2 separate regions of the Homo sapiens genome follow, and region 2 is linked to region 1. Evidence: fine-mapped expression QTL. Tissue or cell type: whole blood. Region 1 holds a variant in brackets; the other region holds the start of a gene. All regions are shown on one strand. Distances are from middle to middle.

What was found. PIP is the estimated chance that this variant, and not a neighbour inherited with it, causes the effect.
Region 2: CXCL8 starts here. The variant in region 1 is fine-mapped to the expression of CXCL8 in whole blood (TOPMed, PIP above 0.99).

Annotation. Positions count from the first base shown.
Region 1 is chr4:73,763,207-73,771,317 of GRCh38, reverse strand. No RefSeq gene overlaps it. Among named protein-coding and RNA genes, the nearest start is that of CXCL8, 27 kb to the right of the region's middle. The variant C/T (reference allele first, on the strand shown) is at 4,895.
Region 2 is chr4:73,735,974-73,744,084 of GRCh38, reverse strand. CXCL8 (C-X-C motif chemokine ligand 8) reads right to left here and starts at 3,516. Exons shown (of 4, transcript NM_000584.4): 1 at 3,363-3,516; 2 at 2,408-2,543; 3 at 2,053-2,136; 4 at 369-1,636. The coding sequence starts at 3,426. The coding sequence ends at 1,621. RefSeq lists a silencer at 4,759-5,053.

The DNA.
Region 1 (8,111 bases):
ATGAAGAAATAAAACTATCCTCCCTAATAGTTCTGTCAGCCTACTCATGAAAGCATGTCTTTTGGTAGTGAAGAAGAATATTTCCCTGACCCTTTCACAGGACTCACAACAGAGGTGCCTCATTTACTCAGTCAGCAGCTTTCAACTCTTGTGGGAGGGAGCACGCTATCAAATGAGGCAGGAACTGGATTGCATGAGCCCTGGAACCAGCTGGCTGCTTTGGTGCCAGCAGGAGCAAACTCCACTCACTTGCACCTGCTGTGTTCCACCCCTTTCAGGAGGGAGTGCACAGGTGAGCGAGTGCAGGAGCCAGGGCAAGCACATTTAGGCACTGGCAGGAGCAAACTCCATGTGGGCTTTGCAGCAGCATCAATGGGATGGTGCCTGTGACCCCTGAAGTCCCAGAGGACATGTTACAGTATTCTTTTAGCTCTCCCATCCACAGACAGCTAAAATGTTAATAGTTCAGTGGGACTTCTTTCTTTTCATGTGAGGTGGCTGCCTTCTGCCAGCGAGGGAAAAGGGCCAGTATGAAGCCTTTTGTATTCACACTTGTGGCTCCCAAGCTGTTGTCAGGTGTCCACGGAAAATGATGTCGCATGAATGATTTAAAGGATGGTAAATGTGGGAGATTTTATTGCCAATGAAAGTGGCTCTCAGTGGGAAAGAGAGCTGAAAAGGGGAAGTAATCTTCCCCTGAAGTCCAGCCATGTTCAGCAGGATTCTTCTCCAAAGTTACGTGGTCAAGCCATCCCTCTGAAGTCAAGCCACTTCTCTCCAATGTCTAGCTGTAGTCCCCAAGGTCCAGCTGCTTCTTCCCTCTGCTGGCTGAGTCTGGAGTCATTATAGGCACAGGATGGGGTGGGGCAGGGTCATGGGTGACTTAGGAAAAGGCAAAGTTCGCATGGGAAAACAGTTCTCACTTTGGCCATGGTCTCGGGCTTTTCAGCTTGAGGATAGGGCTTCACCAGGGACCTGCCCTTTTTTACCTAGAATTTCTCTGCCTCCTTTCCCCATCATTTCCCTTTTCAAAGCGGAACATCTCACTGCCATTAGAATACAGACAATGACCGATCTTAGCTACTTTCTGCTTACTGGGGACACTGTTTTGAAGAAAACAGTGGTCAGATTTCCCTCAGAGGTTTACCTAAGGGCCTCTGGTAAAAGGGAGCCATTGTCCGAGGCTCCAGTTACATGACCCTTTGGAATTTGATCGCCTTTAGGTGAGAAGAAACAAGTTTTACAGGGATAAGTTTGCATGGATCAAATATATGTATTATACAAAACGGGGTTAAAAGGAGATAATCTGGTGACAAAGTTTACAGAAATAAGAAGTAAAATATACTATTCCTTCTAGACACAATATTGTATCCTGCAGTATAGAACAGAATAAAGGTAAAAACAGCGAACATAGGCAAGACTATAAAGAGGATATCCATGGAAGTTTAACACTTATCTTTTGTAATTTTTAGCTTGAGGTCCCCAACCTCTTCATATTGGTACTTTGGGTACTCTTTGGGTTCATCAGCTTCCCAGGCATTTACATGGGTGTAATAAATTCAAGAATCTATTCCAGTGACCTATTGTAAAAGACAGGTGGCTGCTTTCAGGAGGTTCTCTAAAGTACTATCTGGTCCCAGGGCCTGTTTCTGCAGCTTCCTCCTGATCTCAGGGGCTGCCTGAGTAATAAATTTATCCTTTAGGATTAGTTGTCCCTTAACTGAATCAGGAAGTAGAGAGTTGTGCTTCACCAAGGCCTCTTTTAACCTTTCCAGGAGAGCAGTGGGATTCTCATCAAATACCTGGTCTATCATGGATAACTTAGAATAATTGAGAAGCTTAGTTCTAGTCCTACATAATCCCTCCATTATGCACACCTGAATGTGTCTCCTCTTCCATTCTCCCATCTTGTCAGTGAGATCCCATTTAGGGTTATCCAACGGTACTGCTTCTCTTCTAGTTGGATAAAGTTTGACCCCTTCCCTGACACTGTATGTAATAGAAAGCTCATTCCCCAAATCTCTCTGCCACTTGCAGAGTAGCCTGCTTCTCAGTGTTAGTCAGGCTTTGATTCAAAAGTAGCATAACATCTTCCCAGGAGAGTTCAAATACTTGAGTTAAGTTCTGGAAAGCCTCTATACATCTGTCAGCATCATGTGAAAACTTGCCAAGATCCCCCTTAATTGGCCTTAAGTCCTTTAGAGGGAAAGGGACCTGGATCTTACCAGGGACCAAATTCACCAGGCATCTGTTGGAGGGGCAAGAGTGGGACTGGGGCTTATCTAGGGTGAGGATTTCTAGGAGGGAGCAAACAGGAGAGATAAACTGGATAGGGAGGATGGGGTGGACCAAGAGGAGCAGGCAAGAGGGAGCTGGCTCCATTGCTAGAGGGGCCTCTGGGGTTCACCTCTTGTAGCCTTTCTGTGCATTGCAGAAAGGAAAATGATCAGATTATTTGGGGAATACTGGTCACTGGCTCTTAGCTGACATTCATTCCAGGGAACCCAAAATGCCACTGTGGTCCTCCAGTTAAAGTAGGGGCTTATGTAGGTCAGGTAATGTATGGAGTTTTAGCTAATGTCCCACTTCCAGTCAGTCCAATGGGTACCCAGACTCATCCTGTGGTTATTTCCCCAGTGCCAGAATCCATAATTCGCATAGACATACTTAGCAGCTGGTAGAATCCCCACATTGGCTCCCTGACTGGTAGGGTGAGGGTTATTATGGTGGAAAATGAAAGGCAGCTCAAATGGAAGCCATTAGAGCTGCCTCTACCTAAAAAAATAGTAAGTCAAAACAATATTGCATCCCTGAAGAGATTGCAGAGATCAGTGCCACCATGAAGGACTTGAAAGATGCAGATCCCTGTTCAACTCTCCTATTTGGCCCATACAGAAGATAGATAGATCTTGGAGAATGACAGTGGATTACTGTAATCTTAATCAAATGGTGACTTCAATTTCAGCTGCTGTACCAGATGTGGTTTCATTGCTTGAACAAATTAACACACCTCCTGGTACCTGGTATGCAATCACTGATTTGGCAAATGCCTTTTCCTCCCTTCTTGTCCACAAGGCCCAGCAGAAGCAAATTGCCTTCAGCTTGCAAATTGCCTTCAGCTGTCCTACCTCAGGGATCCATTACTCTCCAGCTTTGCATCATAATCTTGTTTGCAGATATCTTAATCCCTTTCCCTTCCACAAGATATCATACTGGTCCATTACATTGATGACATTAGGATGACTGGATCCAGTAGGTCATAAGTAGCAAACACATTGGGCTTATTGGTGAGATATTTGCATGCCAGGGGATGGGAAATAAAACTGACTGAAATTCAGGGAACTTCTACCTCAGCAAAATTTCCAGGGGTCCAGTGGTGTGAGACCTGTTGAGATACTCCTTCTAAAGTGAAGGATAAGTTGCTGCATTTGGCCACCCCTACAACCAATAAAGAGGCATAATGCCTAGTAGGCCTATTTGGATTTTGGAGGCAACACATTACTCATTTGAGTGTCTTACTCCAGCCCATTTATTGAGTGACCTGGAAGGCTCCTAGAATTGAATGGGGTCCATAACAGGAGAAGGCTCTGCAACAGGTCTAGGCTGCTGTGCAAGCTGCTCTGCCACTTGGGCCATATGACCCAGCAGATCCAACGGTGCTTGAGGTGTCAGTGGCAGATAGGGATGCTGTTTGGAGCTTTGGCAGGCCCCTATAGGTGAATCACAGCAGAGGCCTCTAAGGTTTCGGGGCAAGGACCTGCCATCTTCTGTAGATAACTACTCTTCTTTTGAGAGACAGCTTTTGGCCTGTTACTGGGCTTTGGTAGAAACTGAACATTTGACTATGGGTTATCAAGTCACCATGCGACCTGAAATGCCTATCATAAACTGGGTACTTTCTGATCCATTTAGCCACAAAGTGAGGTATGCACAGCAGCATTCCATCATTAAATGGAAGTGGTGTATACGTGATCGGGCTTGAGCAAGTCCTGAGGTCACAAGCAAGTTACATGAAAGAGTGGCTCAAATGACCATGGTCCCCACTCCTGCCACCCTGCCTTCTCTCCCCCAGCCTTCAGCGATGGCCTCATGGGGAGTTACCTATGATCAATTGACTGAGGAAGAGAAGACAAGTTCCCTGTTTGCAGATAGCTCTCCATGATATGCAGGCACCATCTGAATGTGGACAGCTGCAGCACTACAGCCCCTTTCAAGGACATTCCTAAAGGACAATGGCAAAGGGAAATCTTCCCAGTGAGCAGAACTTCAAGAAGTGTACCTGGTTGTGCACTTTGGTTGGAAGAAGAAATGGCCAGATGTCCAATTATATATTGGTTTATGGGCTGTAGCCAATGGTTGGGCCAGATGGTCAGGGACTTGGAAGAAGCATGATTGGAAAATTGGTGACAAATTTGGGGAAGAGATATGTGTGTGGACCTCTCTGAGTGGTCAAACACTGTAAAGATATTTGTATCTCATGTGAGTGTTCACTGAAGGGTGACCTTAACAGAGGAGCATTTTAATAATCAGGTGGATAGGACGACTCGTTCTGTGGATACCACTCAGCCTCTTTCCCCAGCCACCCTGTCATTGCCCAATGGGCCCGTGAGCAAAGTGGCCATGGTGGCAGGGATGGAGGTTACACATGGGCTCAGTAACATAGACTTCCACTCACTAAGGCTGACCCAGCTACGACTGCTGTTGAGTGCCCAATTTGCCAGCAGCAGAGATCAACTCTGAGCCCTCAATATGGCACCATTTCTTGGGGTGATCAGCAAGCTACTTGGTGGCAAGTTGATTATACTGGACCTCTTCCATCACGGAAAGAGCAGCAGTTTGTCCTCACTGGAATAAACACTTATTTGGGATATGGGTTTCCTATCCTGCACCAATG[C/T]TTCTGCCAAGACCACCATCTGTGGACTCACAAAATATTTTATCCACCATCATGGTATTATACACAGCATTGCCTCTGACCAAGGCACTCACTTTACAGCTAAAGAAGTGTGACAGTGGGTTCATGCTCATGGGATTCACTGGATTTACCATGTTATCCATTATCCTGAAGCAGCTGGATTGATAGAACAGTAGAATGGCCTTTCGAAGTCACAATTACAATGCCAACTAGGTGACAATACTTTGCATGGCTGAGGCAAAGTTCTTCAGAAGGCTGTGTATGCTCTGAATTAGTGTCCAATATATGGTACAGTTTCTCCCATAGCCAGGATTTACAGGTCCAGGAATCAAGGGATGGAAGTGGAAGTGGCACCACTCATCATCACCCCTAGTGACCCACTAGGAAATTTTTGCTTCCTGTTCCCATGACATTATGTTTTGCTGGCCTAGAGGTCTTAGTTCTAGAGGGAGGAATGCTGCCACCAGGAGACACAACTATGATTTCATTAAACTGGAAGTTAAGATTGTCACCTGGCCACCTTGCGTTCCTCCTACCTCTAAGTCAACAGGCTAAGAAAGGAGTTACATTGTTGGCTGGGGTGACTGACTCAGACCATCAAGATGAAATCAGCCTACTACTCCACAATGGAGGTAAGGAAGAGTGCACATGGAATACAGGAGATCCCTTAGGGTGTCTCTTAGTATTACCATGCCCTATGATAAAGGTCAATGGGAAACTACAACGGCCCAATCCAGACAGGACTACAAATGGCCCAGAACCTTCAGGAATAAAGGTTTCGGTCACTCTACCAGGTAAAAAACCACAACCTGCTGAAGTGCTTGCTGAAGGCAAAGGGAATACAGAATGGGTAGTAGAAGTAGTCATCAATACCAGCTAAGAACACATGACTAGATGCAGAGATGAGGACTGTAATTGTCATGAGTATTTTCTCCTTATTTTGTCAAGAACATGTTTGTGCATGTATACACTTGACTAAGAAAATATTTTCATTTTCTTTTTTTTCTTTATCATGTGACATAAGGTTTATTGACTTCATATCAGCATCTAAGTGTTATTAACTTTATGTAATAGCATTTGGGTTGGGGATTGGTGTGTTTCCAGTTGCAAAAGGATAGCTGTACTATGTAAGGCATAATTAAGACCTTATTATTGTCTTTATTTGAAAATTATGTATAATTTCAGGAGATGTATATGAGTTCAAGTTGACAAGAGGTGGACTTGTGATGGTTAATATCGAGTATCAACTTTTGATTGGATTGAAGGATGTAAAGTATTGTTCCAGTGTGTGTCTCTGAGAGTGTTGCCAAAGAAGATTAACATTTCAGTCAGTGGACTGGGAGAGGCAGACCCACCTTCAGTCTGGGTGGGCACCATTTAATCAGCTGCCAGCATGGCTAGGATAAAAGGTGGCAGATGAATATGGAAGGACGAGATTGGCTAAGTCTTCTGGCCTCCATCTTTCTCTCATGCTGTTTGCTTCCTGCCCTTGGACATTGGACTCTCAGCTCTTCAGCTTTTGGACTCTTGGGCTTACACCAGTGGTTTGCCAGAGGCTCTCAGGCCTTTGGCCACAGGCTGAAAGCTGTACTATTGGTTTCCTTACTTTTGAGGTTTTGGAACTTGGACTGGCTTGCAGATGACCTACTGTGGGACTTCACCTTGTGATCGTGTGAGTCAGTACTACTTAATAAACTTGCTTTCGTATACACAATGTATCATATTAGTCCTGTCTCTCAGAGAATCCTGACTAATACAGATGGAAATCACATTGTTCTGAATCGCATATCTGATGGCTGGGCCAAAAGCTCATTCTATCTAGTAAAATGTCTGCTGTTTGCAGTAAAACTCTTATTATTACGAAAAAAGATATAGGAGTCATGTCAAACTGTGAAAGAAGAAAGGGAAAGATACCATAGAAAAGTCTAGGGTCTTGGTTAATGTTCTAATGGGCAGTTGGGGACTGGAGCCCCTCTAAGGGCCTTCTGGCAACACTGAGTAGTGACCTTGGCCAGTAGCCTACAGTTGCCCCAGGACTTTATTCTGGTCTGACACGAAGTCCAGACCCCCATGAAGGTAAAAAGAGCCAACATTCCTTGCACCAGGAAGAGAGAGGTAACAGGGTTGCATCCTGTCCCCTGCAAATAGCATAGCTCAGAGGAAAGTCTGAGGACAAGAAATCTTGGAAAAGAAGTGAAGAGAAAGATCCAGCTGATCCGCATTTACTCACCCTTCTTACATATCCTGTATAGGCCCCCACATGAAGCAGGATATTTCCCTGACCCCTTCACAGGACTCGCAACAGGGGTGCCTCATTTACTCAGCCAGCAGCTCTTAACTCCTTGCAGAAGGGTGTGCGTGAGTGAATGAGGCGAGAACTGGATTGCAGGAGTGCTGGAAACAGCTGTCCACTTCAGTGCTGGCATGAGTGAACTCCACTTACTCAGACTTACTGCAGGAGGGAGCACACAGGTGAGCGGGCAGGATTTGGGGTGAGCGCTTTTGGGTACTGGCAGGGGCAAACTCTGTGCAGGCCCCACAGCAGCAGCATCTACAGGGGGATGCCTGTGACCCTTGAAGCTTCAGAAAGCATGTTACAGTGCTCTTTTAGCTCTGCTGTCCACAGACAGCTTAAGTTTTAACAGCTCAGTGGGTCCTCTGCCTTAGACAGCCTTTTGTATCCACACTTATGGCTCCCAAGCTCTTGTTCAGCATCCAGGAAAAATGAGGTTGCACAAACGAATTGAAGGATGTTAAATGTGTGTGATTTTACTGCTGATGAAAGTGGCCTTCAGTGGGAAGAGGAGCTGAAAAGGGAACAGGGAAGGAAGATAATCTTCCTCTGAAGTCCAGCTGTCTCCGGCAGGATTCTTCTCCAAAGTTATGCCATCAAGCTGTCCCTTTGAAGTCCAGCCACTTCTCTCTGACATTTAGCTATAGTCCTCAATATCCAGCTGCTTCTCTGCTTTGCTTGCTGAGTCCAGGGTCTTTATAGGTACATGATGGGGTGGGGCAGGGCCATGGGTGGCTTAGGAAAAGGCAACATTTGAATGGGAAAACAGGGTTATAAGTTCTCACTTTGGGCTGTGGTCTCAGGGTTTTAGGCTTGAGGTTGAAGCTTCACCAGGGATCCGCCGTTTTCTGCCCAGAATTTCTCTGCCTCCTGTCCCCATCAGTAGCTTTTAGACAATCATTTTAC
Region 2 (8,111 bases), 27 kb after region 1:
CATTTATCAGTTTTACTCCTCAGTTACTGATAAGCAACTTATAATATGTACTCTCTTTCCTCTTTAAATGTCCAGCTATGCTAAAGCGCACAGACATACAAACCGGTTAATCGAAATCTGAAGACAGACTTATTAGCAAGATAGTATACAGTGGGGAGTTGAAAACATTTCCAACATTCTGTGGAGGACACTACTGTTTGTAACCTATTTCTGGAAAGGAGTTCTGTTTTCTAAAAATAAAAGTTTGTAATTTTCCATAAACAAAATGCTAAGGGGAAGCATTTATGTTTTCTAAATCAAAGTATAATTTTAAATATAAACAAAGAGAATCCCAATAAGCTAAAACTAAAAAAAAGACAAACACTTGATTACTTTGACAACAAATTATATTTTAAATGTTTCATATTTACTTTTATATTTCCATACAATCAGAAACAGTAAAAAAAATTTGGAGAGCACATAAAAACATCTTAAAGTTAAAAATATAAAGCCTTGTATTTAAAAATGCAGTCATTTAAATAATATTATAAGAATCTATTTGTACATAATAAACAAGTTTCAACCAGCAAGAAATTACTAATATTGACTGTGGAGTTTTGGCTGTTTTAATAGTTCTAACTCATTATTCCGTAATTCAACACAGCACTACCAACACAGCTGGCAATGACAAGACTGGGAGTATCAAACTAGGATTGTTAGTTCAATTAAAATTTCAGATAAACAATAATGTACTTATACTAAAAAATTATTTGTTGTTTATCTGAAATGAAAATTTAACTGGGTACCCAATTGTTTGTTTGTTTAATCTAAAAACCCTGATTGAAATTTATCTAATAAAACATCATTTAATATCTAAAATAAAATAAATTTACTATAACATCTTTATAACTATTCAATCAATGATTCATCTTCTATTTTTCCAAATTCTTGCACAAATATTTGATGCTTAAATAAATACATAAATAATAAATAGGTTAATAAGTTACACTTGAAAATAATTTATGTTATGATGAAAAAACTTAAAGTGCTTCCACATGTCCTCACAACATCACTGTGAGGTAAGATGGTGGCTAATACTTTTTCCACTTAGAAATAAAGGAGAAACCAAGGCACAGTGGAACAAGGACTTGTGGATCCTGGCTAGCAGACTAGGGTTGCCAGATTTAACAGAAAAAAATCCAGGATTTCCAGCTAAATTTGACTTTATGGCAAAATTTATTGTCCCATCATTTTTATGTGATGCTTCAAATATCACATTCTAGCAAACCCATTCAATTCCTGAAATTAAAGTTCGGATATTCTCTTGGCCCTTGGCCTCAATTTTGCTATTTGTATATTCTCCCGTGCAATATCTAGGAAAATCCTTATATTTAAAAATTATTTGTTGTTTTTTGTAGATTCAAATAAATAATACTTTACATATAAGTATGTTCTGGATATTTCATGGTACAATGAAAAACTATTCATTGTTTACTGAAATTCAAATTTAACCAGGAATCTTGTATTGCATCTGGCAACCCTACAACAGACCCACACAATACATGAAGTGTTGAAGTAGATTTGCTTGAAGTTTCACTGGCATCTTCACTGATTCTTGGATACCACAGAGAATGAATTTTTTTATGAATTCTCAGCCCTAAAATAAAATTAAAAATATAAAGATGAGCTATGTTTAATAAGAAGGAAAGTAGGGTTCTTGAAAAGTCAATATAGTCTTTGACATTCATGTGTTAGAAATGCTCTATATTCTCAACTATAAATAGGGAGATCAAAGAAATTATCATCTAAAATAGGACACTACTGGGAGTGACAAAGAACTTTACTAAGAGTATAGGACACAAGCTTAAACCCAGAATTTCCTGGGCAAACTATGTATGGTCTTTCTGGTCATGAGTACAACAAACTCACTATTGATGCTATTCCTTTTTTTTTTAACCAAAAAGGCAGATACCTAATGACGATTTTTAGCAACAGAAAGAAATTTATAGGCTGACTTTGGATTATATGTCTCAGGATAAATGAAAAATTTAAATTAAAAAATATATAACTTACCTCTTCAAAAACTTCTCCACAACCCTCTGCACCCAGTTTTCCTTGGGGTCCAGACAGAGCTCTCTTCCATCAGAAAGCTTTACACTGAAATAAGAAAGAAATGGTTCAGATTAATATTTAGTTTTTGCATTCAAATCATGATTCCTTAAGTCAGGCATAAAGTCTAAGTCCAAAATAACATTTATAGTAGTTGTGGAAGCTACCATATTTAAATGTCATGTAGACAAATATTTTTATTTTGTTTTGTTTCATTTACTACTGTAATCCTAACACCTGGAACTTTCCTAAATATTTCCACCTTCCTTAATTTTAAGTTTGCTAAAACAAAATATCTAATCTTTTTTAAAGTACTTACATAATTTCTGTGTTGGCGCAGTGTGGTCCACTCTCAATCACTCTCAGTTCTTTGATAAATTTGGGGTGGAAAGGTTTGGAGTATGTCTTTATGCACTGACATCTAAGTTCTTTAGCACTCCTTGGCAAAACTGCACCTGTTGGGGGAAAAAGTGATTAAGGATTGATTTTATCAACAGGCACAGCTCTGCCAGCTACTTCCTTTCTAATTCCAATATGATTATTTGGAGACTATGGAAGGCATCATGTTTCTAGTGAACTCATTCCTGAATATTCTCCTAGCCCTTGACCTCAGTTAGTTCTTTGTTTTAAAAAACAGTCATAACTGACAACATTGAACGACTTCCTATATAAAGAGTTAGAGTTCTTTTTGTACAATATCAACATCTTCATGGTATTTTTATCTGGTCAATATTGCATAATCCTCTGTGATACCACAGTGTTATTTATAGTAGGCAAGCTAAGACTCTCCAGCATAGAAATTGCCTTCAGAAAGAATTAACAGAAATATATAAATAAGTTATACATGCCTGGTCTATAATCAGGGTATCTTTAAACCAGACAGGAATTAATGACAAATCTGAGGCTTGTCAATGAAATACTACAAGGAGTGGAATTGTCTGAGTTACCTTGCTCAACTCAATATTAATACATAATATAGGTAACCGTGGTTCTCAATAGGACATACTATAAATTACTTATTTACGTTAAATATATGCATGCTACATGGTATAAATTATAAAAGCAGAATATCTATATTGATCAAACTTTATACTTTCCTAAGTGTTATATATAGTTTTTTCTAAATCTTCAATTTAACATTAATTGACTGCTAAGATTATATTCTGTTTCTGAATAAAAAGGATGTTTGTTACCAAAGCATCAAGAATAGCTTTGCTATCTAAGGATCACATTTAGACATAGGAAAACGCTGTAGGTCAGAAAGATGTGCTTACCTTCACACAGAGCTGCAGAAATCAGGAAGGCTGCCAAGAGAGCCACGGCCAGCTTGGAAGTCATGTTTACACACAGTGAGATGGTTCCTTCCGGTGGTTTCTTCCTGGCTCTTGTCCTAGAAGCTTGTGTGCTCTGCTGTCTCTGAAAGTTTGTGCCTTATGGAGTGCTCCGGTGGCTTTTTATATCATCACCCTACTAGAGAACTTATGCACCCTCATCTTTTCATTATGTCAGAGGAAATTCCACGATTTGCAACTGATGGCCCATCCCCTCAGGGCAAACCTGAGTCATCACACTTCCTATTTGTTCCTTATCAAATACGGAGTATGACGAAAGTTTTCTTTGATCTTTAAAATAATTTAATTTTAATATACATTTAAAATACTGAAGCTCCACAATTTGGTGAATTATCAATTGTATGCTTTTTTATTTCTAGATAACTTTATCATAGTACCATGTGACAGATATAGTACTAGAGTGGCAGGTGTTAGAACAAGATCATGGATGATTTTCTTTTAATGGCATAATTATTTTTTTTCAGTTAATTACAGATGCTATCATGATGGTGAAGATAAGCCAGCCAATCATTTTATTGGGGAGGTAATTTAAAATAAATCTTTTTCTAAGCATTTTAGAGAGTTTCTAGGAACTGTTACTGCTCTTAGGGGGCATACTACAACTTTTCAAAAGATTTAGTTTTCTAATGCATGTTAACAGAGTGAAGGGGCACATGTGCTTCACATAGAAATCAGTTCCACAAACATTTATGGAGTAACTTTCTGAGTAATGTGGGGGATCTAGAAATAGATAAGACTAGGTACTTGTCCTTAAAGAGTTTGGTCTATCAGAAGAAGAAAGCAATGTAAGGACTGACTATATAGCAGAATAGACAAGTGGTACTAAGACATTAATTCCAGTGGAGGCATAAGAGCAGAATCTTCCAAAGGCAGTTGGAGCAAGGCATTGAGGAATAGGAGGGCTTCAATAGAGGAAGATGAAAGAGAACAGCACATTCCAGATAGGAACAGTATTCAAGGCCACTCAAGTTGTAAAGTTAAGGTATGTTTATGCTCCAGAAAGTGGTGCACTGGAGCTGCTTGGTTGGGGTGGGAGGGAGGTGTTATCTAATGGAAAGTTGTATGCTTAGTGGAAAGAGCATCTGGGTTCCAACTCTGGTTCAGCCACTGTTGCTTCATGCTCTTTATCCAAGGACACCAAGTCTGACCTCTGAGGACCCATGATCACTAGCAAAAGGGATGGAGTGAGAAATTTCAACAAATCATAAAAAGGTGGCTTTATGTCCTAGTGTCCTGAAGAAAAGAATCCAAGACCTTTCTTGAAAGGTCTTGGATTCTGTAGATAAAGAGCACCAAGGAAGGGTTCTTATGATAGTAAAAGTCTGTTCGCTTCTGGGCAAGTACATAATTTATAAATAATTCACCTTGGTGTAACAGTTCTTCATTTTCAGAAAGTACGACAGAGCAGTGAATTTGCCCACACTGTGAACACACTGTGGAGGGGGAATGCCATTTTCAAATGCTTTCCAAAAAGGTTTGTCTGTTTCTGCACAATCATGTTTCTTTTTGTTATCTTTCTCCAACCAACCTAAGACTTGAGGATAAAATAATGCCTGGGTTACACTGAATTCTATAGCAAAGTAAATGTTTATTCTATATAATGTAGCTCCTATAGTTTTCAACTGTAGTATTTCAGAAACTTCATTATTCATTTAATATGTGTTGTTTATCTGCTAATGTCCCTTATTGTAGGAGATGTGAATGCTATGTAAATAGATATAGTACCTGACTTAAAGGACTTTGTTGTCTAGTGCAGAATATGGAAAATTAGTTACACAAGTAAGTAAAATACAGTGATGAGTGTTACAATAACAGGTAATTACAGGAAGTTCTGGAATCAAACAAACATGATCTTTGAGGCAGTTTTGATGAATGAAGGTTTTCTGAAGAAACAACATCAAAAGTGTTACCTTTATTGTTAATGAGGAGAAGAAAGACCAATGGGACTGCTTTGCTAGTACAGGACAGGAAGTACAGGACAATGAAATGTAGGCGAACATGGCCCATTTGGGTTTCTCAAACTATTTAGCATACGGAACACAGTGCATGGAGTGACAAGAAGAGAAAGCTTGGGCCGGATAGGTAAAAAAGACCTATATCTTAAAGAAAACTCCAAGTTTCTTTGCTTCAGTGATGTTGGCATGTTTAGCAAAGACACATTCTCATATGGACACAACCTGGCTTGACTGATTCAGTTCACTATCATTAAGACTCACTCATACAGCATCACTAAGACATTCAGAGTTCTGAGGATGTGCAAAGACTTCTTTGCTTTTCCCTAACGGTTGCCTTTGTATTTATGGTGAGCCCAACTTACATAGACACCTCGTTTTCCTCCTTATTTTCATGTCACTATATCTCCCTCTCATTCTCTTCTCATGGGCCCAACTTTATCCTGATATCATCCTTAAAGTTTGAGCTAATGAGGTCTACTTAACCTTGATGCTCACATTTTTTTTTAAGAATGAAGCCTTTCCAAGGCAAAAAGACCTCTTTTGCAAATGTTGTTCATCTCTCACAATGTAACCTTCAGTGCATTATGTCCTAGAACCCTCTCCATCAGAAGTGGGAATGGACAAAGATGAAGTGACTACAAGAGCATTGATTCTATCTTGTCTCACTTCTGTAAAGATAACCATTTGAGTCCTTGCATAATGAGTAGAAGGACTAAATGGGCTTAGGCGGAAAAAAAAAAGCAGGACTAAGTATCCTTTTTAAGGATATTCTGCTTTAAAATAGAGCAAAGTGGGGTACAAAGTTTAACTAAAGTGCCACGCTACACATAAATACAAATGTTTTGTCATCTTCTAGAGATGAATGCAAAGTGAGTTCATGAGACTTAACTGTTTATTTACGTCCCATTCGGCTCCTGAGCCATAAGAATCATTTGATGAGCAGAGACTAGCACCTAGATATCCTCATTAGACGTTGACGAAGTCTATCACCCAAGAAAAGGAAGAGTTCAAGAAAGAACAAAGACGGCCGGGCGCGGTGGCTCAAGCCTGTAATCCCAGCACTTTGGGAGTCCGAGGCGGGCGGATCACGAGTTCAGGAGATCCAAACCATCTTAGCTAACACGGTGAAACCCCGTCTCTACTGAAAATATAAAAAATTAGCCGGGAGCGGTGGCGGGCGCCTGTAGTCCCAGCTACTCAGGAGGCTGAGGCAGGAGAATGGCGTGAACCCAGGAGGCGGAGCTTGCAGTGAGCCGAGATAGCGCCACTGCACTCCAGCCTGGGTGAAAGAGCGAGACTCCCGTCTAAAAAAGAAAGAACAAAGACAAAGATGGCCTCTACTTTTCCCATATTAGTACATAACTCTTCCATCAAACTCCATGAAACTGGGTGTTTCTTGCCTATGCAAAATCATCTAAATCCCCTCCCACCCACGCCATAGGAATTTTAGAATTAGGACTTTTTTGTAAGCCTGAACTAAGTTGTAGTCATATAACAAAGCAAAATATGGTGGGCAAAATGTGGTATGAGCTTTGAAATGAAATGAACTTGGGTTTAAATCTTGTTCCATGGTTTATTAATCAGGAGATCTTGGGCAAGCTGATTCTATGCCCATTGTTCAACTCCTGCTGCTAAAATCTGAGATCCCGTCAGAGCTGCCTTTCTCAGTCTCAGGAGCAGTCTCAGCTCTCACCTGGGTTTTTTTCCCATTTGAGGAAATTAGTCCCAGCTCAACAATCCTCTAGGTTAAAAGAATCATAAACAGAATGCTTAACATATATTAGTGAGTTTGACTTACGATGTTGTTAATGTTAAGAGTCATAAACATAAACATACTGCCCACTAAAATTTTAGTCAATAAAAGTCAGAGTTAGTGGAAAGATTTAAAATATGTTCTCAGCTCTGTACTTTGTTTATGTGATAACTTGATCTTCTCTAGTACCGCAAGACCATTTCAGTTCCATCTCCAAATTCAAATGTCTCCAGTTAACAGTTTATAACAATACTGAGCAAAGTTGGTTCGTGTTGCCAAAAGTGTCCTACCTTTTAAAGAAAAATCTTGGTAATTGGAGAAGCAAACAGCTGAACACATTGGATTTGAGCAACACAAGTCAGAATAACTTAAATTTAAGGGTATGTATGGGTGTTGGAATAAGACAAACCTGCCTTCAAGCCTCACCCCTCCACTTATTATTAGCCAAACAATCATAGGCAGTTCTTTAATCTGACTGTCTCTCAGTTACCTCATCTGTAAAAATGAGAATAACACAGTTCCAAAGGATCACCATGAGAATTAAATGAGGAAACATAATGAAAATGCCCAGAATGGCACCTGGCACATTGGAGGTACTCAGTAAATGTCTGCATCTTTTTCCTCTAGACTATCACTTCAGTCACCCTTATCTTTTCCTGGAGTTAGAGCACCACATTTCTTTTTAAAAGCTTACCACTCAAAAAGTAAAGCTGTATTAACACAATAGATCTCTTAAAGCTTATGTCTAGATGCTTTATTTTCTTCCACTATATAAGCTTTCTTTTTTAATGCCTAACAATTCCATTTGCATTCACATGTAAAAAAATGTACTATAACCATTAATATGAATGCCATTTCTAATACTATCCAAATCGGTGGAGTTTGGAGTTTGAAGTTTGAAGTTTAGGTTTAGGGGAAGACACCAGTTGTGTAAACAGGCATTTATTAAGGACTTAGAAAGGC